Regions from separate parts of the Homo sapiens genome. Here all the other regions are linked to region 1. The links come from fine-mapping of genetic effects on plasma protein levels. A gene starts in region 1. Each other region holds a variant in brackets. All regions are shown on one strand. Distances are from middle to middle. Region 1 holds the start of CEACAM20 (CEA cell adhesion molecule 20). Region 2 overlaps ZNF180 (zinc finger protein 180). Region 3 overlaps CEACAM20 (CEA cell adhesion molecule 20). Region 4 overlaps CEACAM20 (CEA cell adhesion molecule 20).

Evidence for each region. PIP is the posterior inclusion probability: the model's chance that the variant is causal. Protein levels are from antibody-based Olink assays in UK Biobank. Linkage for the fine-mapping came from a reference panel and not from the study's own genotypes, which makes the PIPs less certain.
Region 2: its variant is fine-mapped to the plasma level of the CEACAM20 protein (UK Biobank, PIP above 0.99).
Region 3: its variant is fine-mapped to the plasma level of the CEACAM20 protein (UK Biobank, PIP above 0.99).
Region 4: its variant is fine-mapped to the plasma level of the CEACAM20 protein (UK Biobank, PIP above 0.99).

The regions. Positions count from the first base shown.
Region 1 is chr19:44,526,289-44,534,311 of GRCh38, reverse strand. It overlaps CEACAM20 (CEA cell adhesion molecule 20), which reads left to right and starts at 4,637. Exons shown (of 12, transcript NM_001102597.3): 1 at 4,637-4,854. The coding sequence starts at 4,803.
Region 2 is chr19:44,491,653-44,499,675 of GRCh38, reverse strand. It overlaps ZNF180 (zinc finger protein 180), which reads left to right. Exons shown (of 5, transcript NM_001278509.3): 2 at 2,299-2,392. The coding sequence starts at 2,342. Among named protein-coding and RNA genes, the nearest start is that of ZNF180, 4.9 kb to the left of the region's middle. The variant C/T (reference allele first, on the strand shown) is at 3,065.
Region 3 is chr19:44,503,017-44,510,196 of GRCh38, reverse strand. It overlaps CEACAM20 (CEA cell adhesion molecule 20), which reads left to right. Exons shown (of 12, transcript NM_001102597.3): 12 at 3,983-4,038. The coding sequence ends at 4,036. Among named protein-coding and RNA genes, the nearest start is that of ZNF180, 6.1 kb to the right of the region's middle. The variant G/A (reference allele first, on the strand shown) is at 2,522.
Region 4 is chr19:44,515,412-44,523,434 of GRCh38, reverse strand. CEACAM20 (CEA cell adhesion molecule 20) reads left to right here. Exons shown (of 12, transcript NM_001102597.3): 4 at 523-801; 5 at 2,683-2,961; 6 at 6,211-6,489. Among named protein-coding and RNA genes, the nearest start is that of CEACAM20, 10 kb to the left of the region's middle. The variant C/T (reference allele first, on the strand shown) is at 4,797.

The DNA of each region.
Region 1 (8,023 bases):
TAGCTGGGAGTACAGGCACACATCACCATACCCAGCTAACTTTTTGATCTTGTGTTGAAATGGGTTCTCCTTATGTTGCCCAGGCTGGTCTTGAACTCCTGGGTTCAAGCAATTCTCCCACCTCAACCTCCCAAAGTGCTGGGATTACAGTCATGAGCCACTGTGCCTGGCCACATTTCCTAATTATTATTTTTTTATTTTTAATGTTTCTGCATTCTTAAATTTTTTAAAAGCATTTATTTATTTACTTTGAGGTGAGATCCTGCTATGTTGCCCAGGCTGGTCTTAAACTCCAGGCAGTGATCCTCCTGCCTCAGCCTTCTGAGTAGCTGGGAGTACAGGCACACACCACCATACCCAGCTAACTTTGATCTTATGTAGAGATGGGGATCTCCCTATGTTGTCCAGGCTGGTCTTGAACTCCTGGGCTCAAGTGATTCTTCCACCTCAGCTTCCCAAAGTGCTGGGATTACAGGCATGAGCCACTGTGGCTGGCTACGTTTTCTAATTTTTTTAAAAAAAAATTAATTTTAATATTTTCATGTTTTTAAATGTTTAAAAAAGCACATTTATTTATTTACTTTGAGATGGGATCTTGCTACATTGCCCAGGCTGGTCTTAAACTCCTGGGTTCAAGTGATCCTCCTGCCTCAGCCTCCCGAAATGTCGAGATTACAGGCATGAGCCACTGTGCCCAGCCAGTTATTTTCCACGTATCTCAATTATTATCTGTCTCCCTCCTCCCCTCCCAGCACTCATTACATGTCATTTCTATAAAGGCAGAGATCTCTGTTTGTTTCATTTGCTGGCGTGCCCTGATACCTGAAACAGTGCCTGGCACATAGTAGGGCCATACAAATCTTTGCTGAGTGAATGGCCTCAGTGAGGGCACAGTCATAGGGCAGCATCCTGGGCTGGGAGGTCAGTCCCGTGGGAAGACACAATTTTGAGCCAGCCTGCATGGCTGAGACCTGGTAGGTAAGGGTGGGAAGTGGAGAGGACCTGGTTTATTTTCACCTGTTGGAAATAATTGGAAGTTGTGCTACAGGGAGGGGCCCAGAAAGTCCCTTTCTTTCCTTGGGGCAGCAAAAAACAGAATCTGCCCTGGGGGCTGAGTGGGTGAGTTGGTGGGAATTTCAGGAGAGGAAACCCTGCTTTTGCATGAAGGGGCAGATTTGGGAAGTCCATTCCAGCAGCAGCTCTGTTGTCTTGGATGGGGAGGAGGGGAAGAGGGGAGAGTGCCTCAGGGCAGAGGTGGTGGGGAGGGAAGCTGGCTTAGGAGAAGGTGGGTGGTCAGAAGGTTCAGACATTCTGGGAAGAACGAGGTGGGTGGCAGAGGCCTTGAATGCTGGGCTGGTCTGGGTCAGGCGCCTTCAGTACAGGGACCCATAGAGTCTGAAGGCGTGGCGGGGTGATGTGGCCACATTGGTGTTCATTGATCTGGGTGTACAGAAAGGTGTGGCTGGGGAATAGCGAAGGGCCCTTGGAAAAAGGCACACGCACATGGAGGTTGAGGGCCAGGGCCTGAGATGTCCTGTGACTTTATCCAAGTCATCTCACCTCTGTGAGCTTCAGTGTTTTTAACTATGGGATGGAATAATCATATTCCTTACCCCACTCTTTTTTTTTTCTCCTTCCTTTCTTCCTTCCTTCCTTCCCTCCCTCCCTCCTTTCTTTCTTTTCTTTCTTTCTTTCTTTCTTTCTTTCTTTCTTTCTTTCTTTCTTTCTTTCTTTCTTTCTTTCTTTTCTTTCTTTCTTCCTTTCTTTCCTTTCTTTCCTTTCTTTCCTTTCTTTCTCTTTCTTTCTTTCTTTTTCTTTTTTTTTTTTCAGAGTCTTGCTCCATCACCCAGGCTGGAGTGCAGCGGTGCGATCATGGCTCACTGCAGCCTCGAACTCCCAGACCCAAGCAATCCTCCCTCTTCAGCCTCCTGAGTAGCTGCAACCACAGATACGCACCACTATGCCTATTTTTTTTTATTTTAATTTTTTTGTAGAGAGGGGTGCCCAGGCTGGTCTCAAACTCCTGGGCTCAAGCAATCATCCCACCTTGGCCTCCCAAAGTGTTGGATTTATGGGCATGAGCCACTGCACCTGGCCTCGTCTGATGGTCTCATTACCTGCTATGTCCCCAGCACCTAGAACAGGCACAGTAGACACTCACGAAATATATGTTGAGTGGCTCTCGGTCAGTTCGGGCTGCTAGAACAGACCACAGAATGGGTGATTTGTAAAGAACAGAAAGCTATTTCATGCAGTTCTGGAGGCTGGAAGGCCTATATGAGGGTGGTAGCTTTGTCAGGTTCTGGTGGGGGCTCTCTTCTTGGGTGACAGACTGCTGTCTTCTTGTTGCATTCCCCACGTGGTGGAAAGTGAACAAGAGAGCTCTCTGAGGTCCCTTTTATAAGAGCACTAATCCCATTGGGAGGGACCTGATTACCTCCCAAAGTTTCTGCCTCCTAAAACCATCACGTGCAGGATCAGGATTTCTTCAACATCTGAATGACAGAGAGACAAACATTCAGTCCACAGCAGTAACAGAGTGAATGAATGCGTACCCCCTCACAGGGCTGCAGTGAGATTATGATGCAGGGCAGTCATGACATCCAGTGGGAATTCACATTTGTTGATGGCTTACGCTGTGCCAGGCATTGCTCTGAGCACTTTCCTGGCACTCACTCATTCGATCCTCACAACCGTCTTGTGCGGGGAGTCTGTGATTTCTCCCAGTCTGCAGATGGAGCACACGGAAGCATGCAAGGGTGACAAATTTTTCCCAATGAACCATGGCTGGGATGTAAAGGACTGTCTTGCCAGCCCAGGCAGCCAGCTAGCCTAGTGCTTGTAAATGGTGCCACAAGCAAGGGTGACAGATGGCCTGGCACACTGAGGTCAAGTGCTCATAACCACAGAGCTTCCTAGGAGACAAAAGCATCATCATCTACTCTGCTTTATTTTATTTTAATTGAGATGGGGTCTCACTATGTTGCCCAGGCTGGTCTTGAACTCCTGGGCTCAAGTGATCCTCCCACCTTAGCCTCCCAAAGTGCTGGGATTACAGATGTGAGCCAGTGTGCCTGGGCATCATCTCCATTTTAGAGCTGAGGAAAGTAGTCCCTAGAGAGGGGAGCTGACCTGCTGAGGCCACCCAGTTAGCAAGTCGGGGAGTCAGGATTTGAACCCATGCACTCTGGCTCCAGAGCCAGCTGGCTCGGCCTTATGCTTTATCAGGGCAGATACTTTGTGACTGCCTGTAGCAGGAGCAAGACGGAAGCAGGGCAGCAAAACGAGGCAGCTGAGTGAGTCACGATCTCTTTCTTGCAATGCCAAGCTGCCCCTCATACCCTAAGTAACAGTTCCAGAGTTTTCTAAGCCGCCTGTTGAATCATCCATCCTCTCTCACTTCCTCTATTCTAGACCCACCTGACCTTCCTTCTGTGCCCCAATTTCAAAAACTTTTCACATGCTGCTCCCCCTGGCTCACCCCTATGTTGTTCAGGTCTCAGCTACCATGTCCCCTCTTCCAGGAAGCTCTCCCTGATCCTGAAGCTGAGCCAGGCGCCCCCTTTGAATTCCTCCATCCCAGCCCTGCCCACTCTGGGTTGTCACTGTCTGGGGACAGTTCTGTCTCCCCCACTGGACTGTGAGCCTCTGTGAGAACAGGGTTGGGGCTGTCTTAGTCAGAGCTGTGTCCCCAGTACCACCAGGAGCAGGGGTCAGCATAGGAGAGAATTCAGGACTGGGCGCGACGGCTCACGTCTGTAATCCCAGCACTTCGGGAGGCTGAGGCGGGCGGATTGCTTGAGCTCATGAGTTGAAGACCAGCCTGGGCTACGTGGTGAAATTCCGTCTCTACTAAAAATACAAAAATTAGCTGGGTGTGGAGGCGCACGCCTGTAGTTGCAGCTACTAGGCAGGCTGAGGCAGGAGAATTACTTGAGCCTGGGAGGTGGAGGTTGCAGGGAGGGGAAATCATGCCACTGCACTCCAGCCTGGGCAACAGAGCAAGACTCCATCTCAAAAAAAAAAAAAAGGAAGAGAATTCAGGAAGTATTTGTTAAATTAATGGATGGATACATGGATTAATGATAGTTCCCTCAGCTGGTCGGTTCTGTTAAATCTTCTGGGTCTAGGTCTATACACTGTCAAAGACCACCAGCTTGTCTTGTCATAGAGATTTTTTTTTAAGTAACTTTTATATATGGAACCTTTACTATGTTCTCGAAGTTTCAGCTCAGATGTCCACTCCTCCAGGAGGCCCTCCCTGCCCCTTCTCCCAAGACCACGTCAGGCTCCTCCTGGAGGTCCCCCAGTCCTGCTCAGTCTGAGATTCCTGCCGGTCTGACTCCAGAGCTTTTGTTTATGACCAGGATCTATATCACAAGCATGATTCCGGCTCATTTAATATTTATTGGCTGCTTATAATGAACTTGGCACTGGGACTGGTTATTAAGCTCTCGGGGACAAGGAGCTGGTCATTGTTGTTTTTTATTATCATTGCTATTGACTATCGTAATCGCAGTTCCCGGTCTCCAGGGTTCCTGGACTTCCCGCTCTTTGTGCTGGGCAGGGAAGGAAAGTGAGCCCTGGGGGTAGAGGGCAGAGGTGGGGTCAAAGTTACTTTCCTGCCACCACCCCTGTCTGTCCTGGGAGCTGCAGTTACTGCAGTGTGTGTGTGAGTTTGTAGCAGGGTGGGAGAGGAGAGAAGGGAGGTGGAGGGGCTGCACCTGGAGTGAGGACTGTATCTGTGTGTGCAAGCCGGGGCGACAGACGGCCTGGCACACTGAAGTCAGGTGCCGGGACCCATGGGGCCTGCTGACTCATGGGGACACCACTGGATGGGAATCCTGCTTTCAGGTGAGTGCCCTGCTTCCTTCAGATGCGGGAGGAGGGAGGTTGTATGCATCTATTTGTCAGCGGTGTGTGTGTGTGTGTGTGTGTGTGTGTGTGTGTGTGTGTGCACTCGAGGAAAAAGAGATGGAGGCAGAGAAAAAAAATAGAGACACAGAGACAGAGACAGAAATAAAGACAGATACAGATATAAAGATAGGGCCAGGCGTGGTGGCTCACATCTGTAATCCCAGCACTTTGGGAGGCCGAGGTGGGTGGATCACTTGAGGCCAGGAGTTTGAGACCAGCCTGGCCAGCATGGCAAACCCCCGTCTCTACTAAAAATACAAAAATTAGCTGGGTGTGGTGGTACACTCCTATAGTCCCAGCTATTTGGGAGGCTGAGGTAGGAGAATCACTTGAACCTTGAACTCGGAGGTGGAAGCTGCAGTGAGCTGAGATGACACCATAGCACTCTAGTTTGAGTGACACAGCAAGACCCTGTCTCAAAAAAAAAAAAAAAAAAAAGAAAGAAAGAGAGAAATACAGAAATAAACATAGATACAAAAGAGATAGAAGGAGACATAAACAGAGACCAGAGACAGAGAGACAAAGATATATGTATATTTGTCAGTGGTGTGTGTGTGTGTGTGTATACTTGAGGAAAGAGTGACAGAGGCAGAGAGAGAAACAGACACAGAGAGACAGAGACAGAAAAAAATACAGATGCAAGAGACTGACAGAAGGAGACATAAACAGAGACCAGAGACAAGAGAGAAAGACAAAGATGTGTGTTTGTGTGTCTGTGTACACAGAGAAAGAGAGAGAGACAGAGAAAGATGGAGTCACAGCCACAGAACCAGAGACCCAGGGAGAAAGAGAGAGAAATACAGGGAGAAGAGATACGCACAGAGACAGAGACAAAGGGTGAAAAAATAACCTTAGAAATGATACCAGTGGGGCCCAGGCACAGTGGCTCACGCCTGTAATCCCAGCACTTTGGGGGGCCAAGGCGGGTGGATCACGCAGTCAGGAGTTCAAGACCAGCCTAGCCAAGATGGTGAAACCGTCTCTACTAAAAATACGAAAATTAGCTGAGTGTGGTGGCGGGCACCTGTAATCCCAGCTACTCGGGAGGCTGAGGCAGATAATTGCTTGAACCTGGGAGGCAGAAGTTGCAGTGAACCGAGATTGTGCCATTACACTCCAGCCTGTGTGACAGAGTAAGACTCTGTCAAAAAAAAGAAAAAGAAGAAAGAAAGAGGGAAAGGGAGAGAGAGAAAGAAAGGAAAGAAAGAAAGGAAAGAAAGAAAGGAAAGAAAGAAAAGAAAGAAAGAAAAGAAAGAAAGAGATACCAGTGGGAAAAACAGGAAGGGGCAGAAAGAGAGGGAGACAGAGGACAAAGAGACAGGGAAAGAACTGGGTAAATACACAGCCAGAAATAGATTCAGAAACGCGGGGAGAGAGTTGGAGTATCACAGAGATTCAGACAAGCAGATGAGAGACAGGTGGAGGGAGGCTGTGCCAGCCCTGAGCGGCCAGGTCCACGGATCAGGATGGGGATGGATGTGAAATTTCTGCCTAGAAGGCATCTGAGACAAAAGGCAGAAACTAGAATATTTTGATGAAAAAAGTATTTTGGAAGTGAAGACATGATTTTGCAACAGGTCATGTGCAGAGGTGAGGGCTCAGCCCAGCCTTGCTGTGTGTCCCTGAGACCAGCTTCTCCTTCTCTGGGCCGGCGCTTCCTGGCTAACCCTGGAAGGGTGCAGGGGCTCTGTAGTCCTGGGAGGCTGAGAGTTATCAGCCGCATCCACAGTGAGTCTGTAAGTGTTGCCTCTTCCTGGTAGGACAACGGCAGGACCCTGTGAGAAGAAAGCCAGAGGGAAGGGGCCATGGCAGGCTTTCCACAGAGAGGCTTCCTGTCTCGGGTGGGTATGATGAGGCCCCATCAGTGCTTTTGCTTACATCATTTCACTTATCCTTATGACAGTTAAGTGAGGCTGGAACTGTTACTACCGCCATTTTTCAAATGGGGAAACTGAGGCTCAGATAGGGAACATCACTTGACCAAATAAATGGCAAAGATGAGATTCAAACCCAGGTGGTCAGGCTCTGAGGCTGTGAGCCTAACCTCTAATAGCATTTGAGGCAGAGAAACCACAGACACAAGAACTCATCATCAAGACCACCACCATCATCATCATCGTTGCCATCATGGTGGCTGAATATTTGCTATGAACTGTGTTAAGCATGCCACATTTGATATCTCACTCAGCCTTCACAACCACCAGATGAGCTGAGTTCTACTATTATCTCCATTTTTCAGTGGAAGAAACTGAGGCTCACAAAGAGAAAGTCCCTTACCCATGATAGTAGGGCTAGTAAGTGACAGAGTTCATATTTGTTCCTAAGAGCTCGTGCCCTTATTCACTCACTGGGCAGGGAATGGGGCAGTGTTTGGGCCACATTGGGGCCCTTTTGAGAAGTGCAGAGGGTCTGTGTTAATTGAGCTCATGGGAGAGATGAGATCAGTTGCGTGTGAGCACAGCTGCTGGGGTTGGGCCCCAGCAAAGTCTCGTGTTTTTTTTTTGTTTGTTTGTTTGTTTTTGAGACAAGGTCTAGCTCTGTCACCCAGGCTGGAGTGCAGTGGCACAATCTCGGCTCACGACAACCTCTTCCTCCTGGGTTCAAGAGATTCTTGTGCCTCAGCCTCCCAAGTAGCTGAGGTTACAGGTGCACATCACCATACCTGGCTAATTTTTGTATTTTTTTGTAGAGACGGGGTTTCACCATGTTGACCAGGTCTCGAACTCTTGTCCTCAAGTGATCCACCCACCTCCGCCTTCCAAAGAGCTGGGATTACAAGCATGAGCCACCGCGCCAGGTCCCATAGTCTCTTGCAGCCCCCGTAGTGGTGTGCAGAATGATCAAATGGAAAACTGGGAACTCATTTTTTTGTGTGTTTCTATTTTTTTTTTTAAGACAGGATTTTGCCGTCACCCAGGCTGGAGTGCAGTGGTGCAATCATAGCTCACTGCAGCCTCAAACTCCCAGGCTCAAGTGATCCTCCCATTTCAGACTGTAGCTGGGACTACAGATGCGGGCCAACACCCCCAGCTAATTTTAAAAATTTTTGGTAGAGACAGAGCTTCACTATGTTGCCCAGGCTGGTCTCAAATTCCTTAGCTCAAGT
Region 2 (8,023 bases), 35 kb after region 1:
GAATTACCCATGGGCAGCAAACTCCCAGGCTGAAGGAGGGTATCAGGGCCTAGAAACAGGTTCTGGGCAGAGGGCCCCCTGCACGTCCTGGGGGTGTCTGAATGGAAAACAGAAACTTGAACTGATAGTAGGGACCTATGTAGGATAGTGCAGAGCTCTAGAGCATTCAAGATGGGCAGAGACTCCGGGTTGGAGATACAGAATTTAAGTCCAGGAAGGACAGAGCTGCAACAGCTGCCATCAAATTGGTAGCTGGGGAGGAAGCAGTATGTTGCCAGCATCGTTATGAAGCAGGTGTTGCTGAGACCTTTACTTGGGTACGCTATTTGCAGGCGTGAGAATGTGCAGGTTAGTAGAGGGACAGAGCCTGTGCTGCAGATTTGGTCCCGGGAAGAGCTGACTGCACAACACCCAGGCCGTCATGATTGGGCAAGAGAAGGACAAAGGGCCCAGTTCCCATTGAGCTGCTGTATCGTAGGCTCGAGAACCCCCACGCTGGCGAGTGCCCAAGTCCTGGGGCTGATTATGGAGCTGTATGCTCAAGCTACTGTTTAGTTGTTGTAGTGTCCTGGCTGCGGGCAAATAGTGGGGCAGTTGACCCCAGAACCTACACAGAGGCTGTGGGTACCTGAGATGTCCCAGGCAGGTTGAGACACAGGGTGAGGGATGTAGATTGTTGACTCAGGAGCATGGTGTGCCCCCAGACGGGCAGAGGAGCCAGGTCCTGGATGCAGATTGTGAGCACGAACCTGCTCTGTGGCTGTATCAGTAGGAGGGAGTCTAGGTGGGTGGCCCGTGTGCAGTGGCTGTGGAATAGAGGCCTGGGGGCTCCAGTTTGGATCTGGTCTTAGGAGGCACGGGGCTGCTCCAGCAACACTCTGCACGTGTGCTGGCATTTGGGCAGATTGGGGAGGCATGGGCAGTCCTAGGACCCTGATTCTGCCTGAGGATGCCCAGGTGTGTGGGGGGGAGCAGCTGCAGAGGGGCGGGACTGTGTCAGGCACCCCTTGTGCACACACACCGGTGTTTGGTTGGGAAACAGGAGGCCGGAGATGAGTTTTAGACAGAGGGTGCTGGGGTCTTTGTGTGATTGGAACCCTGATCACAGCCTGATGGTGCCCAGTTTGGTGGAAAGACAGGATCTTCCTGAGCCACAGGTGCCCCCGAAAGATGTTTGGTCAGAATCTGGGCAGGTGTGGCTCAAGCAGGGGGCTGTGGAGTAAGGTGGAGGAAACAGTTTGGGTGCAATTTCAGGAAACAGCTGCATTGTGAACCTACGCTATGCTGCGTGAGAATATGGTGGGAGCAGGGGAGAGAGTAAGTGGGAGAGATGGAGTGCAGAGGGTGGGGTGCCTAGGGTAGGATTTGCCCTCTAGTCTTGGATCCCAAAACACCTAGTTGGTACAGAGGCACCTGAGCTTCTGAGACATGTATTTAGAGCCTGGGTAGGGCTGCTTTTGTCTGGCTTGTGCTGGTGTCTGTTGGAGGCCCCCAGCCCTATGCAGGCCTTGTTGTAGTTTCAGGCCTGAGTATACCCAAGTTGGTGGAGGGACTGGTTTAGAGCTACAAATTCAGGGCCTGGGAGGGTGTTAGGGTGGGAATCTGGCTGGTGCTGTTCGAGTAGGAGCCAGTGGACCCCAGAAGTGTGGAGGGAACAGGATGTGGGTATAGCTGAGCTCTGTGCATAAATGCTTGGCTATTTGAGCAGGATGTGGGTGGCCCTCTGTGCTGAGTTGCTGGAGGGACAGGTCTGGCTGATGGAACGGTAGGATCAGTCTTAGTTGTTGAATCAGTTCCTGGGAGCAGTGGAGCTGTGTCACCAGCTTCATGCAGTTAGGCAGTGAGTGTGATTCTGGCCCTAGGAAGAAGTGCTGGTTTGGGGCTGTAGATTGAGGTTGGTAGGGGTAGGATGGGGTGAACACCAGGGGGTCCTCAATATGCCTGATATTTGTGGGGATCCCAGGGCCCAGTGAATAGGAGAGGGATGGACTGGTGCTGCAGACTTTGGTGGTGGGCAGAAGGCCATGTTGGGCACAAGCTGGGCTTACAGGTAGATGGTCCAGGGGCCCAAGATGGTGGAGGAACCAGGTTGGAGCTGCAGAAACTTGACCTGGGAGAGGGACTGAGGGACTCTCAGTACATACACAGGTATTTGGGCAGGAAGCTGGCAGGAACCTCCAGAAGTGCATTTGCTATGGGAATGCATCCTGCATCCTGGGAGCAGGGGCTAATGGGGGTGGGGGGCCCAGCGGTTCCGGCAGACCTACATCTTCATGCTGTACTTGGGGCTTCTCTCAGTGCAGCTCAGGACCTCAGCACCCTGCTGTGCCTGGAGGAGAGCATGGAAGAGCAGGATGAGAAGCCCCCAGAGCCCCCGAAGGTCTGTGCACAGGTGAGTGGAGACCCAGAGCTTGGGTCTGTCTGCAGCCTGACCCTCTCAGCTTGGGAGGCTGTGGCTCCTCCCTGACTCTCTTTGCAGCCTTTTAGGGGGTTTGAGGCCCTCATGGCCATCAGGCTTCTAACACTTACTATATATTTTATGAATCTCCCTGCTAGTTGCCTCACCTTTTTAGCCCAGATAACTCTTTCTGGAAGGAATTTGGCATCCTGAATCAAAAGCCCTTAAAATGCTGATTCCCTTTTGGCCAGCAATTCACAGCTTTGAGAATGAACAATTGGAAATATACTAAATGTGCAATGTAAGAGGATAGCTGAATGAATTACGATAAGACCATGAAATAGAATACACTGTAGCCATTGAAACTGATGATAATGCAAATTTAATGACAGAAAAAGTTATTTATTACCTATGTTAAGTAAATTGCACTTAGAAATCATCACTTTTTAAAAAGAGATATAGTTTTTGGGTATATAGAAAATATGTTAGAAGACTATAAATATAGCAATCAGTTAACAAACATTATCTGTAGTTGTTTTATCATTTATTTATCTGTATTTTCTTTTTCTTTTCTTTCTTCTTTTTTTTTTTTTTTTTTTTTTTTTGAGACAGAGTCTTGCTCTGTCGTCCAGGTTGGAGTGCAGTGACACAATCCTAGCTCACTGC[C/T]GCCTCAAACTTCTGGGCTCAAGCCATCCTCCTGCCTCAGCCGCCTGAATAGGTGGGACTACAGGTGGGCACCACCAAGCCTGGCTTATATTTTTTGTGTGTGTGTATTTTAAAAATTTTTTGTAGAAACGATATCTCACTATGTTTTCCAGGCTGGTCTCGAACTCCTGGCTTCAAGCCATCCTCCCACCTCAACTTCCCAAAGTGCTAGGATTACAGATATAAGCTACCACACCTGGCTTGTATTTTCATATTTTTGTACAGTACACTTTAAGGTAAAAATATTGACAATTGGCCAAGCACAGTGGTTCACACCTATAATCCCAGTACTTTGGGAGGCCGAGGTGGGAGGATTGCTTGAGGCCAGGAGTACAGGACCAGCCTGGGCAACATAGTGAGACCCTGTCTCTATAAAAAATTTTAAAAATTAGCCAGGATAGTGGTGTCCACCTATAGTCCCAGATACTTGAGTGGGTGAGGTGGGAGGATCGCCTGAGCCCAGGAGGTCTAGGATGTAGTAAGCTATGATTGTGTCACTGCACTGCAGCCTGGACAACAGAGTGAGACTCTGTCTCTAAAAAACAAGTTAACAATTTAGAACATTTCCCACCGCAAATATTCTTTGAAAACTCTTAATTTCTTAAAACTGTTAAATTAGAGCTTCTCCTTTCTCTTCCTGAACAAGTCAGCCTTGAAGCCGTGAGGTGGGGCAGTGTTAGGGGGCACCTACAGTTGTCAGGACTGCCTGCTGTGAAGAGAGTGTCCATGTGCAGGGTGTCAGTGACCAAGCAGGGTGAGGAGTGCATCTGCACAGGATGACATCCCAGCATAGTCAGAGCCCAAGTGGAATGAAGAAGTCGCTTGTGCACGTGGTGCAGCCCAATGTGGGTGTCAGAGCCCAAGTGGCTGAGGCCAGTGTCCATATATGGAGATCTGGTGTGGGGTGATGGGGTCAGAGCAGGTGAGCAAGGCATCCAGAGAGGGGGTGCTTCATTGTGGGTAGTTGGAGCCCAAGTGCAGTGAGCAGGTGTCCATGGTAGATGGGGTGTTGGAGCCAGAGTGGGGTGAGATGTGCACCTGTGTTGGGGGTCAGGTGCAGCCTGGTGTGGCATGTCAGAGCATGAGCATGTTGAGGGCATCATGCGTGAGGGTGGCCTGCAGGGGTGTCAGAGCCCAGCGGCATGTGGAGGGTACTGACACAGTGGGGTGGCCTGACGTGGGCTGTCCAAGTCCAAGTGGCAGAGGAGTGAGTCTGAGAGATGGGGCAGCCTAGCCCGGGGAGTCAAAGCCTAAGCAGGGTGAGGAGCTCCCCTGGGCAGAGGGTGGCCGAGTGTGGGGTGGCAGAGCCCAGGGAGTCTGGGAAAGCATCCATAGGGAGAGGGCGTCATTGTGGAAATGGGAGAGGAACTACCTACAGGGGGCTAGATCAGATAAGTAAGTGTATATATAAGGGACTGGAGCCAGGCGCCTTGCCATCAAATCAGGGAGGTACAGATACGGCAAGAAAGAACATTTGAGTGGACTCTGGTGTGCAGTGGGAATTGGAGGTTTTATTGTGGGCTCATGGTTTTCAGTACACATTAATCTAGAAATATATAGAGATGTGTGCTTGTATCGGTGTGCGTATGTGTGCACACAGATTCCCTGTCTGTCCGCGGAGGGCTGGGAGCAGTGACATCCTAATACCACTACGCATACCTAGTGCCCACATTTCACCTTCTAAATATGTTACAGGTTTTATGGGTTTATTGTTAATGGCTCTTTAGTGTTACATTTTTTTGCTGTTACAAATAGCATTGATATAAATGTTTTGTATGGGATTCCATGTATACATGTGCAATTGTTTTAGAAAGAGTTAAGCAAATATAAGTTTACATTTATATCTTTATCAAAACTACAGGTAAAATGTGTGGGGTTTTGTTATTTTGTTGTTTTTTAAGAGACAGGGTCTCACTCTGTCACCCAGTCTGGAGTACATGGCACACCAGCATAGATCACTGCAGCCTGGAATTTCTGCGCTCAAGTGATCCTCCCACCTCAACCTCCTGAGTATTTGGGACTACAGGTGCACACCACCACGCCCAGCTAATTTTTTTATTTTTTACTTTTTGTAGAGACAGGGTCTCGCTGTGTTGCTCAGGCTGGTCTCGAACTCCTGGGATCATGCCATCCTCCCACCTTGGCCTCCCAAAGTGCCGGGATTACGGGGTGAGCCGCAGTGCCTGGCTGGTAGAATGTGTTTTGATGTGGTCATTGGTGTTCTAATTTAAGCGAGGCACTAGGTGTTTTCTGGGACTCTTAATGGTCCTTTTACCATTTTCTTTTTTGTGAGCTGAATTAGAAGTCTGTTCATTATATGACTTTTGTCACATATTTATTGACTGCCTAACCAGTGTAAGGCCCTGTGCAAAGCACTGTGGGGAAAGATGAGACAGACAGCACTGCCCTGCACGACTTAGTTCTCACAACCAGAAACGCGCTTCTTATACTTTCCAAGGCTACATAGGGAAAGCAAAAACATCCTGTTTGTTGTATTAGTTATCTGTTATTACATACCCCAAAATTTTGCAGCTTAAAATAGCCAATGTTTATTTCGTCACACAATTTCTGAGGGTCAGGAATCCAGGTCAGCTTAACTGGTTGTTTCTGGTGCTCAGGGTCCCTGATGAGGTTGCAGGCAAGTTGTTGTCTGGGCTGCTGACTTCTGAAGGCTTGACTAGGTGGGAGGATATTGTTGCAAACTCACTCAGATGGCTGTTGGCAAGAGGTGCTGTACACCAGAGAGGCCTCTTTCCAGGGCGTTCACAGCATAGCAGTGGATTTCTGCCAGAGCAGGTGATCCCAGTGAGAGAGAGAGAGAGAGCAAGAGCACTTAGTTGCACACAATCAAGATGAAGCCACAATGTCTTTTATCATCTGATTTCAGAAGTGACACACCATCACTTCTTCCATATTCTGTTGGTCACACAGACCCACCTTGGTACCATTGGTCAAGGACTACACAAAGGCATGAATACTAGGTAGTAAGGGTCTTTGGGAGCCATCTCAGAGTCTGGCTACCACACTTCTCAACTCTGAATGTCCTCTAGTTAATTTTAATTATTATCAGAAGATGAACAAGTACTTGATTTGGACCTGAAGGATATTAGAACCCTGGAAGGGAGAGAAAAATCAAGGGAGCCAAAGTCTTTGCTTTGAACGAAGGCCACGAGTCCAGTGAGCTGATCTAGGAAGAAACCATCTGGGTATTGGGGCATCACCTTAGAGATTTTAGTGGCTCATACACAGGAAGTAGCAGCTGGTCCAGCGAAGGCCTTGAGCCAACTCTGAGCCCTACCTGCCTTCAGGGACTGAGACCAAAACTGCTGCCAAGTAGGTGGTAGAATCTCACCCATCCACTGTCATTCTCAACATTCGAAGTTGTGCAGGTTGTTGGTGGCCCTATGTGGATGGTCTATTCTGTGTATTTCAGGACAGTGAGAATTATTCATGGATGATAAGGTGGGGCAGGAGAGGGAATTTTCTTGTGCGTGAGGACTAAAGGGATCCTCTTGTCAGGATGATTTCTGAGAAAATCAGGGAAGGGAACCTTCTTTCCAGTGCTGTAGTTTGTGAATATTGGTTTTACGCCTTCTAGATTTGGTGATTAAGAAACCTCAGGGCCTCCCACATGGGCCCTGTGGACGCCATATCCCTTGAGCTGAAATGTGAGCTCCACCTTCCAGCTCCCAGGGCAGGAAGAGATGGAAACACACCAAGAAGTCTGCCTGTGTGACGCCTGTGTTTTCTAAATGTTCTCACAGATATAGAGGGTTTCCTGCCAGTAGACCCCCAAAGCAAAGCTCTGAGAATTGAGTCCAGTAATATTTCTGTGATTTGATTAGAAACTTCATTTTATTGCCCCAAGAATACCTCAGATTGGGAAAGGAATATTTGGTCATCTCTATTTATAGGTGAGCAAATAGCCCTAGCCCTAGGTCTGATTTGACCACTGTCTTACTATGAAGCGGACAGGTCACTCCATGATAGCTCTGCTTGTCTCTTTCCCCCTGCTTTGGTTCCCATGGGGTCCCACATACATTACAGAAGGAACAATTATTATCTCCTGCCCACAACCCTTTTCTCTGTGCAAGTCAACAGTCTAATTCCTGTTCCCATTTCGTAAAGTCTGCAAAGAAAAAGGGAAATGCTCCTTTATGACCTAGAGAGGTGACTGTTGAACAAGAGGGTAATTTAAAGATGCTCCAGAGCATACAGAAAGTAGAGTAAAAGTTTTTAATTCTATTCCTATGTCCCAAACTCTGCACGTGTCTCTAGTCTTGTCAAATGCAGAGAACTTTTATTGTGCTCCTACTCAATACTGAGGAGAATACAAAGATAAAAAATACACAGTGCTTTCTAATATAGAACCCAGGACCCAGGGGAGAGGTATATAGAAATGGTAGTAATATGAAGAGAATAATTTTACTGGTATAGTAAAGGGCCACCAAAGCTAAGAAGTCCTGAGAGAAGAAGAGATGAAGCTTTCTGCTATCTGGGAACGCTTCATGGAGGAGGTGGCATTTGATCTGGGCCTTGGGTGATTAGACAGACTTTGGTAAGACAGTGGGAAGCAGAAGAGTTTGTGTCAGGCAATCAGTGGACTTAAATGAGCTTACTAAACCTTATTACCATTAATTTCTGCATTGGTGAAATAGAATAGACATATTACTCTTTTCTTCAAAAAAAAGTTTAGGCCAGGTAAAGTGGCTCACACCTGTAATCCCAGCACTTTGGGGGACCAGCATGGGAGGATCACTTGAGGCCAGGAGTTCAAGACCAGCCTGAGCAACATAGTGAAACTCCCACCTCTACAAAAAATAAAAACAAAAAAATTAGCCAGCTGTGGTGGCGTGCCTCTGTAGTCCCAGCTTCTTGGGAGGCTGAGACAGTAGGATAGCTTGAGCCCAGGAGTTCAAG
Region 3 (7,180 bases), 24 kb after region 1:
TTTGTTTGATCCCTTTACACTCCTTTCCATCTCTTTCTTATTTCATTCCTTTTCATTCTTTTCCTTTCTTTCTATTGCATTTTATCCATTTTTATTTTTTCTTTTAATTCCTTTCAATTCATTTATTTTACATTCCATTACACTCTGTTTTATTCCAGCCCACTCAATTCCCATCCCACGACTTTATTTCGTTTCCATTCTTATTCTTCCCATCCCATTTCAGTCTTCTTATTTCCATCCATATATTTAATCCATTTCATCCGTTCTATTTCCTACCTCTCCATTCCTTCCTAGGCAATGTCCCTATTTACATTCATTTCCATTTGATTGGTTTTCACTTCATTCCACTACATTCCAGTTCTTATTCTTTATATTTCTTTTCCATTCAATTTTTCTTTTTTCCCATTCCCTTCTTTCTTTTCCATTCACTTTCTCTTCTCCATACCCTTCCCTTTCATTCAATTCTATTTCACTGTTTTCCATTCCTCTCCCTCTGTTCTCTTCAATTCCTTTCCCTTTTCATTTCTTTCCAATCCACCCCACTCTATTCTATTCCATTCCATTCTACTGCATGTTTTCTCACTTCATCCTCTCCCTTCATGCCCTTTATGGCACTTCATTCCCTTGTCTTTATTACTTTCCTTTTCAAGCTTTCCATTTAATTTCTTCTTTTCAAGTCATTCCATTCCACTCCTTTTCATTTCATTTAAGTTCTTTCCATTTCTTTCCAGTCCTTTGCATTTCCTACTCTTTATACCATTGATTTCAGTTTCATTTCATTTCATTATTTTATATTCCATGGCATTCCATTTCCCCCCTTTTCTGTTTTTTTTTTAATTTCGTTGCTTTATTTTTATTCTTTAATGTTATACTTTCCTTCTACTATATTACTTTTCTCTAATTTCCTCTCCACTTCTCTCCCCTCATTACCTTATTTTATTACTCTCTTTTCTGCTCCATTTTATTTTACTTTATTTCTTTCTTTCTGTTACAATTTTCCTTTTCATTTAATTTCTTTCATTTGCACTTCTTTGGACATCATGCCATTTTATTTCACTCCATTCTCTGCCTTTAATTTTTATTGTATTCCTTTCTGTCCTATTCAATTTCCCTCCATTTCATTTATGCCTTTGCCATCTCTTTCAGTTACATTCCTAAATAGTCTATTCCTTTTCATTCATTTCCTTTCCTTTCCAATCTTTCATTTCATTCATGATATTTACTTCCCCACATTTTTCTCATGGGAGATTTGAAGCAGTTTTTCCCATGGAAGATTTGAAGCAGTTTATATACAACACTACAAAATGGTGTTAAATTAGAAATAGAAATTACAATCAGAAAAAATATTTTTAACAATAGCAAGAAGTCAATATATGGGTAAAAAGTAAAAATATATACTGGGCCTACGTGATATCTGCCACTATATCTCTTATGTGTCTCTAAGCTTCCTGGTAACAATAAAACAGAGAGGTATGATTAGTTACATCATTCAAAAAGAAGAAAACTGGGCCAGGCGCGGTGGCTCACGCCTGTAATCCCAGCACTTTGGGAGGTGGAGGCGAGCAGATCACTTGAGGTCAGGAGTTAGAGACCAGCCTGGCCATCATGGTGAAACGCTGTCTCTACTGAAAATACAAAAATTAGCTGGGCATGGTGGCAGGCACCTGTAATCCCAGCTACTTGGGAGGCTGAGGCAGAAGAATCACTTGAACCTGGGAGGCGGAGGTTGCAGTGAGCTGAGGTCGAGCTACTGCACTCCAGCCTGGGCAACAGAACAAGACCTTGTCTCAGAAAGAAAAAAATAAAAAAGAAGAAAACTATTAGTTCATCCAGGCATAAGCAAAATTCCAGTAACAAGTTTAGAGCAGTCAAGTGATGGCTCCATAGTTCTAAGGACTAGTAGAATTATTTTAGAGAATGCAAGTGATCTCAACCCTGTCATCAGGACAGCCAGATTACTCCAATTCCAAGAATGGACTTCAGATTCTATATTCTGAACAAGCCAGTGACCAGTCAGAATTTATCCAGAGGAGGAATAAGAGAGAGGCCAGAACAGGGGCTCAAATCCATGTCCTACTGACAGGGTTTTCTTGGGTTTGGAAAAGAGAAAGTTTAGGGACAGAGAACTCCAATATTTTAGTGTCTGACAGGCTTCAAGTAGAGGGATAAATGTGTTCCTTGTTGTTCCAGAGGGCACATAAATTACCATGGAGGATAGGTAAAAGAAGGGTAGATTTTAGCCTAACAGACAGATAACTATTCTTGAAAAATGTGAATATCCTATACACCTTTTTAGTTTTTTGAGACAACGTATTGCTCTTTCACCCAGGTTGTGTGCAGTAGTGCGATCATGGCCAACTGCAGCCTCAGATTCCTGGGCTCAAGCGATCATCCCACCTTGGCCTCCCAGAGTATTGGGATTACAGACGCAAGCCACTGCACCTGGCTGAATGTTTCATATATTAATATCTTAGTCAAGAATTTTTAATGTTAAGAAAGTTAAACCCTTTGAATGTAGTTC[G/A]AATGGGGATTAATTGAGAGAACACTGAGAAATATCAGATAACTCAATTTCAGAAATTACTCCTGGGCCTCTTGGCGACTTGAATGCTATCAAGAAGCTGTTTCTCTCTTATTATACAGTTTCTCATTTTCACTAATCTATGAATTCATCTCATTCTTCTCAATCCAGATTGAATTTCTATGTAAATGTCCTGGTCATTGCTTCTCTATAACTTCAGAGTATATATAACAACATCTTCTGCTGCCCTTTAAGCATTTCTAGGTTCAAATTCTCCATAGAAGAATCAGATTGATTCAGGCCATGGTATGGATCATGTTTAGTTTTGTCAGCTCTCTAATCAGCTTTGAACTGGTAAAAACTTAGCCACCTAAGTCCCTCTCTTCACCAGTGTCTGCGTAGGGGAGCCATGTTTGTTTCCTATTATTAGTCGGGCAAAAGGTCTTCCCAGAAATACCACCTAGTAAGCTTCCTCTTATATCTCATTAGCCAGAATAAGGTCATATGGTGCTCCTTGTAGCAACAGAGGCTGAGAAAGTGGTACATTAACATTCCCAGCCTCTTCAATAGAAGCAAGCAAGGGAGGTGGTGTGGGGAAGAAGGTTAGGTCAGTCAACTCAGTGAACTCAGTGTCTGCTACATTCTGGAGGGATTAGAAGGAGCAAACCATGCAAACAGTATGAAAGGAAACATTCCAACTTGAGAGGCATCAGTAAAAAAGGCCCTGAAGAGGGTGTAGAGTTATCAGTTGCTGTATAATGAATTACCACAGACTTTGCAGCTTAAAACAACATGAATTCATTATCTCACAGTTTCTGTGGGTCAGGAGTTCAGGCATTGCTTAGTTAGCTCTTCTGCAAGGCTGTATAATCAAGGTGCCAGTCAAAGCCCAGGTCTCATCTGAGGCTCAGCTGGGGATGGATCCACTTCCAAGCTCATGTGGTCATTAGCAGCATTCAGTTCCTTGCAGGCTGTCATAATGAGGGCCTCAGTTTCTTACTGTCAGCTGGAGGTCATCCTCAGTTCTTTGCCATGTGGCCCTCTCCACAGGCAGCTCACAACATTGCATCTTGCTTCTTCAAGCCAAGACAGAAGTCATAATCTTATGTAACAGAATCACATACATGCAATCATGTATATCCTGCCACCTTTGCCATATTCTATTGGTTAGATGCAAGTCACAGGTCTTGCCCTCAAGGGGAGGAGATTACATAAAGGAATGAATACCAGGAGGCAGGGATTATGGGGACCACTTTAGAGTCTGTTTACCACAGTGGGGAAGTACATGGGCCATTCCAGGAACAGAGATGTGCCAGGGTTACTAAAGTGTGATGAGAATGGAGGAAGATTTTTGGAATTTCCAAAGAAAGGAAAGCTCCAGGCTGTTTGGGCCCCAGACTACAGTGAGTAGACTGGGAGGGTCCACCTAGCAAATGGAGCTCACATTTTCTCTTTGTTTAACAGGAGCTTGTGAATCCAGAGCCCAACACTTACATCCAAATCAACCCCTCCGTCTAATGGAAGCAGAGATCTTTTCTCCAGGAGTCCTAGAGAAACCATGCTTGATCATATATTTAATGACATTTATTAAGTGCATATTATAAGCCAGTCATTCTCTGTCATCTCTGTAGACCTTGTGATGTTCTACTGCAATGGGTTGGTCAGGCCCTGGCTTCCATAGAATCTTAGATTTTGACTCATATTTTTTTTCAAAGCAATAGTAAGGGTAAAAATGACAGCCCGTGGATCTAGAGTTAGAGGACCAAGGTTTGAGACTGAACAGCTTAGGATATCATAGTTGCAGGCTGAGGATGAGCAAACACTGTTGGTGGACTCCAGAGAGAAGAGTGAGTCTGAGTCAGCCAGAGAGGAGTAGGGGACAAAGACAGGTGTCAGAGAAGAAGTGGCTTTTCAAATCATGATAGAAGATAAGGAACAAGGAGCTCTTAAGAAATTAAGAGCTCTTAATAAAAGGAGAAAACACGTAGTGAAGTGAGGGATTGAGGCTCCTGAGGAGAGGTAGGCATGAAATGCTTAGAATCCTGAGAACTGCAGGGGCGGAGAGAGTCAGAATGAGATTTGCTGAAGGTAAAGAGAGTTAGGAGACAAGGATATCTCCATGGTTTCTTGCCAGGGCAACTGGATGATTGGCAGGTCACTTTCTGAGAAACTTTGGGATAAGGAGAGAAATAAAGAATTTGCTTCATGTCAAGAATTTAGACATGTCAAGAATCAGTTGCAGAATCAAGTAGGCAATTGTTCATAAAAATCTAGACAGATCATGGCTGGAGATACACATTTGAGAGTTGTCAGTGGGACTTAAAGTTATGGGGCTGGATGAGCTCCTCTGTCAGGGGGGTCCCCAAGACCACCTCATGCTCAAAGATTTTCTAGAGGAATTCATAGGACCCAATTGTTATACTCATGGTTATAGTTTATTACAGCAAAAGGATGGAGAATAAAATTAGCAAAGGGAAAAGGTGCATGGGGTGAAGTCTGGAGGATACCCTGCACCAGCTTCCAAGTGTTCTCTTTCAGTGGAGTCACATGGTGTATTAGTCTGCTTTCTTTGGCCTATAACAGAATATCTAAATCTGGGTAATTTGTTTTAAAAAGGAAATTTATTTCTTACAGTTATGGAGGCTTAGAAGTCTAAGGTCTAGGGGTTGCATCTGGTGAGAGCACTTCTTGCTGGTGGGGACTCTCTGTGGAGTCCTGAAGTGGTGCAGGGAATCACATGCCAAGGGGACTGAGTGTGGTAACATGTTAGCTCATGTTTCTCTTTCTTTTCTTATGAAGCTACCAGTTCCACTCCCATGATAACCCGTTAATCCATTAGTCCATGAATGGATTAATCCATTCATGAAGGCAAAACCCTCATGAGCCAATCACCTCTTAAAAACCCCCACCTCTCAATATTGCCACACTGGGGATTAAGTTTCAACATGAGTTTTGGAGGAGACAAATATCCAAACCACAGCACATGGGAAATCCCCCAGCAATGATGTGTGACAACGTGTGTGAAGCATTGCCATCGAGGGAAGCTCACCTAAACCTGGGTGTCCATGGTTTTTATAAAGGGTCAGTCACTGAAGCTCCAGACTCCTAGAAGGAAAGCAGATGTTCCTCCATAAATTACACTGTTAGTATAAACCATCTGGACAAAGTGGTACAGCATGGCTCAAGGCCTCAGGCAAACAAAAGCACTCTTACCAGATAGAACATTATGAGAGCTCAGTTCCCAGAGCTGCCCAAAGGCTAGTCAGGAAAACAGGACCTTCTGGGGAACTTACAGAGTTTGAGCAATAGGCCTGTTATGTCAACCCCAAGCAGAGTGGATGAAGACAAGGCAAGGGACAGGCTGACAGCTGATTCCTGGGTTCCTCTGATGTTTACAGGAGAGATCAAGCAAAGGAGACAAAAAAGGACTGTTAACACAGGGGGAAACCAACACTGAAAACTCCTGGAAATGAAGAGTTTTCAGAATGCGTTGTTGCTATCCTTGGAGCTGAATGGCTATCATAATGATGATAACATTAATTCAGATTTTAAAAATTAATCATTAGATGTGATACAAGAGACCGGAATTAGGATCTTAAGGGTTGCACTCAGTAGTACCAGAAACACCACCCTATTTGAACCCTGAGAACTTTCCTCTTCCCTGCCAAGAAATGTCCCCCTCCCCCTGACATCCTAGAGACAGATCATGCCCTTTTACCCTCTCGTTACTCTTACTTTGTTTTCTAGTATTTATAGTAAATGGATTCATAATCTTCTTGCTCTTCACTGTATCTTGAGCCCTTATCCAATTCATGGCCAATAAACAGAATCTTAATATAAACTTTGGTCTCAGCTCTTCCCGACAGTTGACAGATAAATCTCTAGATTAGATAGGCATCTTTCTAGAATGTTCCTGAGTGGTAACTCTTTAAAATTTTTATTTATTCATTTATTTATTTTGAGACAGGGTCTGGCTCTGTCGCTGAGGCTGGAGTGTAGTAGCATAATCTTGGTTCACTGCAACCTCTGCTTCCTGGGCTCAGGCAATCCTTCCTGCCTCAGCCTCCTGAGTAGCTGGGACTACAGCTTGTGCCACCAGGCCCAGCTAATTTTTGTATTTTTTGTAGAGACGGGGTTTCACCATGTTGCCCAGGCTGGTCTCAAACTCCTGGGCTCAAGTGATCCTCCTGCTCCGGCTTCCCAAAGTGTGGGGATTACAGGCGTGAGCCACTGCGCCCAGCAGTGGTAACTCTTCTAAAGTCCCTGTAATATTCAGGTTAAGTCAGGATTTATAGGTTCCTGGAAGTAAACATTACCACCTTGTTCATTGTGAAAGAAAATAAAAAAGACTAAACAAAAGACAGATAAACAAAGTCAGTTTTACATTACATAGTACTAACGCTTTATTTTCTGAAAATTGTTTTTTTTTTTTGAGATGGAGTCTTGCTCTGTTGCCCAGGATGGAGTGTAGCAACGTGATCTTGGCTCATTGCAGCCTCTGCCTCCCAGGTTCAAGCGATTCTTCTGCCTCAGACTCCTGAGTAGCTGGGATTACAGGCGTGCATCACCATGCCTGTCTAATTTTTGTATTTTTTAAGTAGACACAGAGTTTTGCCATGTTGGCCAGACTGGTCTTGAACTCTTGACCTCATGATTGGCCTG
Region 4 (8,023 bases), 11 kb after region 1:
TCATTCATTCATTCATTCATTCATTTGAGACAAGATTTCTCTCTGCTGTCCAGGCTGGAGTGCAGTGGTGCAATCATAGCTCAATGCAGCCTCGACCTCCTGGGCTCAAGCGATCCTCCTGCCTCAGCCTCCCGAGTAGCTGGGACTACAGGCATGAGCCATTGCACCGGGCTAATTTTTAAATTTTTTGTAGAGATGGGATCTTGGTATGTTGCCCTGACTGGTTTTAAACTCCTTGCTCCAAGCAATTCTCTTGCCTCAGCCTCCCAAAATGCTGGGATTACAGGTGTGAGCTACAATAACCATTCAGCTGGCATACTTTAGACGTGTCTTTCAATCTTGCTTTACCCAGGGATGAGGCTGACATTTCATCTCCATCTGACTGCTGTACCTCGTTTGCAATTGATCTAGCCTTTGAGTGGGGAGGAGGGAAATAAAGTATTTATTGATCCGTTAAAGACCTCCATAAGAGACCTGTTGCTGATGCTGTTGTTACTGCTGTAATTGTTCCTGTCCTCTCAGATGGTCCTGATCCTGTTGAAATCAAATTGGAGTCTGGTGTTGCCAGTGGGGAGGTGGTTGAGGTGATGGAGGGCTCCAGCATGACCTTCTTAGCGGAAACAAAGTCTCACCCACCCTGTGCCTATACTTGGTTTCTCCTTGACTCCATTCTGTCTCACACCACGAGAACATTCACCATCCATGCTGTGTCCAGAGAACATGAGGGCCTGTACAGGTGCTTGGTGTCCAACAGTGCCACCCACCTGTCCAGCCTGGGTACTCTGAAGGTCCGAGTACTTGGTGAGTCTCCTTTCCCGGTTCCTCTCCTTCATTCTTCTGAGCGTCAGATGCTGGCCATGTCAGAAGGAACCAGGAGTTCTTAATCCAGGGCCTTTGGATACTGTGTGAGGGAGAAATCCCTGCATGACATTGAGTTGCATGAAAAATGTTTGCGCTGTGTTCTAGAGGAAGGATCTAGGATTGTCATCAGATTTTTGAAGGGATCTTGAACTCTGAAAAAAAACCTTAAGAGGCCGGGTGCAGTGGCTCACGCCTGTAATCCCAGCACTTTGGGAGGCCGAGGTGGGCAGATCACGAGGTTAGGAGATTGAGAACACTCTGGCTACCATGGTGAAACCCTGTCTCTACTAAAAATACAAAAAATTAGCCAGGTGTGGTGGTGGGCGCCTGTAGTCCCAGCTACTCAGGAGGCTGAGGCAGGAGAATGGCATGAACCTGGGAGGCGGAGCTTGCAGGAGCTGAGATCACGCCACTGCACTCCAGCCTGGGCGACAGAGCAAGACTCTGTCTAAAAAAAAAAAAAATCTTAAGAGCCAGTGAGCTACACCAATACCCCAGAGTTTGAGGAGGACCCAGGGGGATTTCCAATGCAGCAGGGCTCCGACTACAGGGAAGGCTGGGCACACTGGCTCCTTTGCCTGGCTTGGCACATCCTGCACGAGACCCTGGTGGCTCTCTAGGGGTTGCCCATGATTTGACTCTCTGGAGGTGGGGGGTTTAACTGTCTACATTTAAAAACACTAACACAACATTCACACACTCCGTACACACACAGATAATATCCCCACATGAACAGCACACTCACGTGCATGTACAATACACACAGTAAACACAACTCATATATAATACGTACACAACTGTGCAATACCACAGACATACAACACACACTCACACAAAACATACAAACATATAGCATGCACACAACAGAGGTGTACAACTCACTCATCACAAAGTACGTAACACATCAGACATACAACACATACACACAAACCCACAACACATACAAACCCATAGCACATACACACAAACCCACAGCACATACACATATACACACAGCATATACATACAAACCCACAACACATATACACAAACTCACAACACACACACAAAATGCTCACACATACAACACATGTACAACACACATGACATACAAAACGCAGACATACATATCTCACATACATCTACACAACAAACAAGATCACATATACATGACACACTCACATAAAATATATATACACCTAATATGCACTAATGGACACACACAACACATATCATTGACATTCAGCACCTACTAAACATTACAACCATTAAACATCACAGACACTCAAGATGGACAACATGGAAAACACACCATATACCATACAGTCAACACCCTCAACACATATATACAACAGACACACAATGCACACACAAAATGCACACACATACCACATGCAGCACATACAGCATATGCACACATCACACAACACAAACACATAACACAAACAATACCACAGACACAGAACACACATTCATATACAACAAATATATACACATAGCATATACTCACATACAAAGTGCATATGTGTACCACACACATACTTCATATTCAACACATACACCCAACACACACAAGAGACGCAAAACACTTACACACCACACACTCTCCATACACACAAAACTCATTGCATATTCACATAATAATCACACGACACACATTCATCCACAAAAGACATACACGTACCCCGCACACCAGCATTATGCAAATCATATACACCACCTGTAACACACACACACACACACACACACGCACGCACTCCTGGAAAAACTTGTGGGCCCCACAAGGGCAGGAGATGAGGGAAATCTCCCTGAACCTGACTGTGTATCTCCACGTGTTTCCAGAAACACTGACCATGCCTCAAGTCGTGCCTTCAAGCCTGAACCTTGTGGAGAATGCTAGGTCTGTGGACCTGACCTGCCAAACCGTCAATCAGAGTGTGAATGTCCAGTGGTTCCTAAGTGGCCAGCCCCTCCTGCCCAGTGAGCACCTGCAGCTGTCAGCTGACAACAGGACCCTAATCATCCATGGCCTCCAGCGGAATGACACCGGGCCCTATGCCTGTGAGGTCTGGAACTGGGGCAGCCGGGCCCGGAGTGAGCCCCTTGAGCTGACCATCAACTGTGAGTCACCCAGGGCCTGGACCTTCCCCATCTCCCTGCTTCCCTCCTTCTCTTTAAGTTCTTCCTTCTAGTCATTCATGCTATGATTATTGAGCTCCTGCTCTGTGTCAGGCATGAATCTGGGCACTGGACAGGGCCAAGTGCCTGCCCTCAGGGGGCTTATGTTCTAGTGGAGAAGCCAGACCATAAACAGAGAAGCAGGTGATAAGGCTTAGGGACACCACCAGATTTAGGCTTTCACAGGGTCTCACTGGCCTTTGTCTACAGGGAGGCAAACATAGAAGTGGGGGAGAGGGGGAGTGAGAGAAGGAGTTGTATTTGTCCAGATCCTTGGAGAAGCAGACCCCAAGGTGGGATTAACGGGATTATTCATGCAAGGGTTTTATTAGGGGAAATGCTCCTGTGAGGATAACTAGGGAGGCAGCTGCAGGGAGGCTGGGAGAGCCATCAGACTGAGAGACTGAGATGCAAGTGTGACCCCGAGTGACAGGGTGAGGGACAGAGACTTGAATGGAAGCACCTGGATAACCATGCACTTGAAGGAACACCCATCATGGCTGTTGGGACCTTCCATATCTCCCAGGAAGGGGCCTGCCTTAGTTTCCTGGATGCACTCAGGTACTGGCAGGGTGCAGCCTGTGGAAGGGCTGGGAGTAGATTTGGGGGCACAGCAATTGGGCCCTTGGTCAATTACATTTCTGCCGTTGGAGGTCTTTGAAGAGCTTCTCCTGGTGGCCAGAGTTGCGCAGCAAGAGATGATAGGGCTGGACCAGAATGGCAACTGTCGGGTGTTGAGAAATGGTTGCACTGTGGATGTATTTTGAATATGCTGCTGACTGATATTAGGTGAAAGAGAAAGAAAGGAGTCAAGAATGACTGTAAGGTTTATTGCCTGAGCCACCGAAAGGATGTAGGAGTCACGAACCAAGATGGAGAAGATTGGGGGAGAAGAGGTTTCTGCAGGGAGAGAAAGGAGGGGTGCACTTTCATACATGCGAAGCAGTAGGGAACACAGAGGTAGGGGTTGAGTACATGTCTTTGCTCCTCTTTACACTTCTCTGTTGCTCACTCCTCTTTCCTTTTCAATTCAGTCATTAAACCAAAAATATATGTTTTGTGCTCTCTCTGTGCTAAGCAACATGTTGGGCATTTGATACTTGACATGATTTTCAGCTTTCACAGCCTGCTGGGGATGGGGAGGTCACTAAGCAGGCAGATAAAACATAGCATGATAAATGGGACCCCGGGGGACAAAGGGAGGGTATGGGGAGCCCAAAGGAAGCCTCCATCTGGGGGATGTTGCAAAGGGTCATCATGAATGGGGATGTCCACCATAAGAGCTGAAGGATGAGTAGGAGTAGGCTGCTTAGAGCAGAGTCAGGGAAGAGCATTCTAGACAGAGGGAAGAGAGTGTGCGATGGCCTTGAGGCAAGAGAGAGTGTAACAAGGATGGAATCTCCGAGTGGGATTTAATTCCTGAATGAGAGCAAGAGGTGTGGAAAGGTGGGGCTGGAGGGGGTCTGTAAGAATCAAATTGTAAATGGCCTCTTCAGACATAGGCTTTGTCCCAAGGGCACTGGGGAGCCACAGAGGGTTCTGAACACAGGAGGGACAGTGACACTTTAGTACTTAGGAAGACTTCTCTGGCTGCTGTGTGGAGGATGAGACTGGGATGGGGAGACCAGGAGGAGCTGGGATGCAGGTGAAGGATCCAAGTGTCAATGGGGTCAGGATGGGGAGAAATGAGCAGGTTCAAATGATGTTTAGGAGGGAGCAGAGTCAGGGTATTCCTCCCCTCCTAGAATGTCTCAATTAGCAACCTTTTGCATCCTTTC[C/T]AGTATTTTACATTAATTTAAATAAAGTATGACTCTTAAACTCTTTTAGGTTTTTTTTTTTAAATAGAGACAGGGTCTTACTATGTTGCGTAGGCTGGTCTTGAATCCCTGAACTCAAGTGATCTCCCTGCCTCAGCCTCCCAAAGTGCTGGGATTACAGGCATGAGCCTCAGCCCCAGGCCTAAACTCTTTTAATTTATATGAGAAATCCAACAACTACTTTCATTTGTTTCCTTCTTATATGTGGTGGAAGAGAAAAGTGACAATGATCCCCTCTGACATTACAAAGAAAATTTGCACGTGTTTATACCATTGAGAATACACAGTACTAGAAGTTAGGGATTATATACACAGGACGCAGCCACAATTTCCCTCCTTTCCTTCCTTCCTTCCTTCCTTCCTTTCTCTCTCTCTCTCTCTCCTTCCTTCCTTCCTTCTTGCCTGCCTGCCTGCCTGCCTGCCTGCTTTCTTCCTTCCTTCCTTCCTTCCTTCCTTCCTTCCTTCCTTCCTTCCTTCCTTCCTTCCTTCCTTCCTTTCTTTCTTTCTTTCTTTCTTTCCTCTTTCCTTTTGAGTCTCACTCTATCACCTAGGACGGAGTGCAGTGGCACAATCTTGCCTCACTGCAACTTCGGCCTCCCAGGTTCAAGTGATTCTTAGCCACTCGAGTAGCTGCAATTACAGGCATGTGCTACCACATCCAGCTAGTTTTTATTTTTATTTTTCAGTAGAGACGTGATTCGCCACACTGGTCAGGCTGGTTTTGAACTCCTGGTCTCAGGAGTTCCACTCACATCCACCTACCTCGGCTTCCCAGAGTGCTAAGATTACAGGTGTGAGCCACTGCGCTTGGCCTAGCAACAATTTCTGATGCCTGGGTGACCTAAAACACTTCTTTGAATTAACTTTTACAAAGGCAGTTTTTTTTCTTTTTTTTTTTTTTTTGAGATGGAATCTTGCTCTGTCGCCCAGGCTGGAGTGCAGTGGCATGAGCTTGGCTCACTGCAACCTCCACCACCCATGTTCAAGCAATTCTGTAGCCTCAGCCTCCCGAGTAGCTGGGACTACAGGTGCGTGCCACTACGCCCGGCTAATTTTTTGTATTTTTAGTAGATACGGGGTTTCACCATGTTAGCCAGAATGGTCTCGATCTCCTGACCTCGTGATCTGCCTGCCTCGGCCTTCCAAAGTGCTGGGATTAATTACAGGCATGAGCCACCATGCCTGGCCCTTGTTTTTGTTTTGATCTGCCCCACCCCCAGTGTTGTGGACCACACTCTGCTTGTCAGAGAGCTAAGGAGGAAAAGGGAGTATGTTCTGTTTATTTTACTGAAATTCCAAGGTGAAAGTGAATGGGGCAGAATGGGATGACTCGCTGATGGGGGCCAGGGTGCATCACGTTTGGCTTTACACACAGATGGTCCTGACCAAGTGCACATCACCAGGGAGTCGGCATCTGAGATGATCAGCACCATAGAGGCAGAGCTCAACTCCAGCCTGACCCTGCAGTGTTGGGCCGAGTCCAAGCCAGGTGCTGAGTATCGCTGGACTCTTGAACACTCCACCGGGGAGCACCTGGGTGAGCAGCTGATTATCAGGGCTCTGACCTGGGAACACGACGGGATCTACAACTGCACAGCCTCCAACTCTCTCACTGGCCTGGCCCGCTCCACTTCAGTCCTGGTCAAGGTGGTAGGTGAGTCTCTCAGGGTCGCCTTCTCCCAGGACCCGAGGGGCCTTTCCTGATGCTGGTCCCAGCTACCTAGTCTACCCCTACCGAGGGCTGGAGTGTGGCAGTCTCCACACTGCCTGAGCAGGTTCTCAGTCCACAGCTGTTGAATCCCAACCCCTAGTGGTCAGGGAAATGTAGAACCTGTACTTCCTGCTGTGTTCCCTGGAAAACTCTCCAAGCTGTTCTGAGCTTCAGTTTGTTTGCCTGTAAATTGGGTTTGTGATGTGTATTAGTCCATTTTCATGCTGCTGATAAAGACATGCTGAAGACTGGGTAATTTATAAAGAAAAAGAGGTTTAATGGACTCACAGTTCCACGTGGCCAGGGAGGTGTCACAATCATGGTGGAAGGCGAAAGGCATGTCTTACATGGTGGCAGACAAGAGAGAATGAGAACCAAGCAAAAGGGGAAACCCTTTATAAAACCATCAGATCTCGTGAGACTTATTCACTACCATGAGAACAGTATGGGGGAAACCACCCCCATGATTCAATTATCTCCCACCAGGTCCCTCCCACAACACTTGGGAATTATGGGAGCTACAATTCAAGATGAGATTTGGGTGGGGACACAGCCAAATCATATCGTGATGCCTATCTTTCAGAGTTGCTTAGAAGGACAATGAGTCAGAGATATACCCAGTGAGGGAAGGAGTGAGCTATATGGGGAATCGGAAATGATGTTAATAACAACTGGACATGACTGGCAGGGAGTCCCTGTATCTCTGTCTTTAGTTCTTGAGAAGGTAACAGTGTCACTGTTCACTGGGATTCACATCCTTCTCCAATGCTTGTTAGCTGTGTGACCTTGGACAAGTTACTTACCCTCTCTGGGCCTCTGATTTATTATCTGTAAAACATAATAATTCTGCCTATTTCTTAGGGTTGTTGAAGGTTGTGAACATTTGTAAAGTTCTTAGGGCAGTGCTTGGCATATTGTGTTTGTTAAACAAATAAAATTATTCCTTTTTTTGTGTGTGTGGCATGATCATGGGTCACTGAAGCCTCAACCTCCCACACTCAAGCTATCCTCCTACCTCAGCATCCTGAGAAGCTGGGACTACAGGTGTGCACCACCACAGCTAGCTAGTTTTTTATTTATATTTTTTTGTAGAGACGGGGCCTCCCTATGTTGCATAGGCTGGTCTCAAACTCCTGGGCTCAAGTGATCGTCCCGCTTCAGCCTCCCAACGTGCTGAGATTACAGACTTGAGCCACGAAGCTCAGCCTAAAATTATTATTTATTGAGCCTGTGCCACATGTCTGAATCCAACTTTCCCATATATAATATCAGCAAACACTTCTTGGGTACTCTCTGTCAGCCAGTTTTGAGGTGAGCCTGTTGGTTTCTTCATTGTACAGGAAGGGAAACTGAGACCTATAGACTCAAATCCTGTCATTGGGGTTTGAAACCAGGCTGGCCTCCTCAAGTTGTTCACTAAGCCTAGGACACCATTTATATCAACTTCCAAATTACCTCATTTAATCTTCAGAACAAT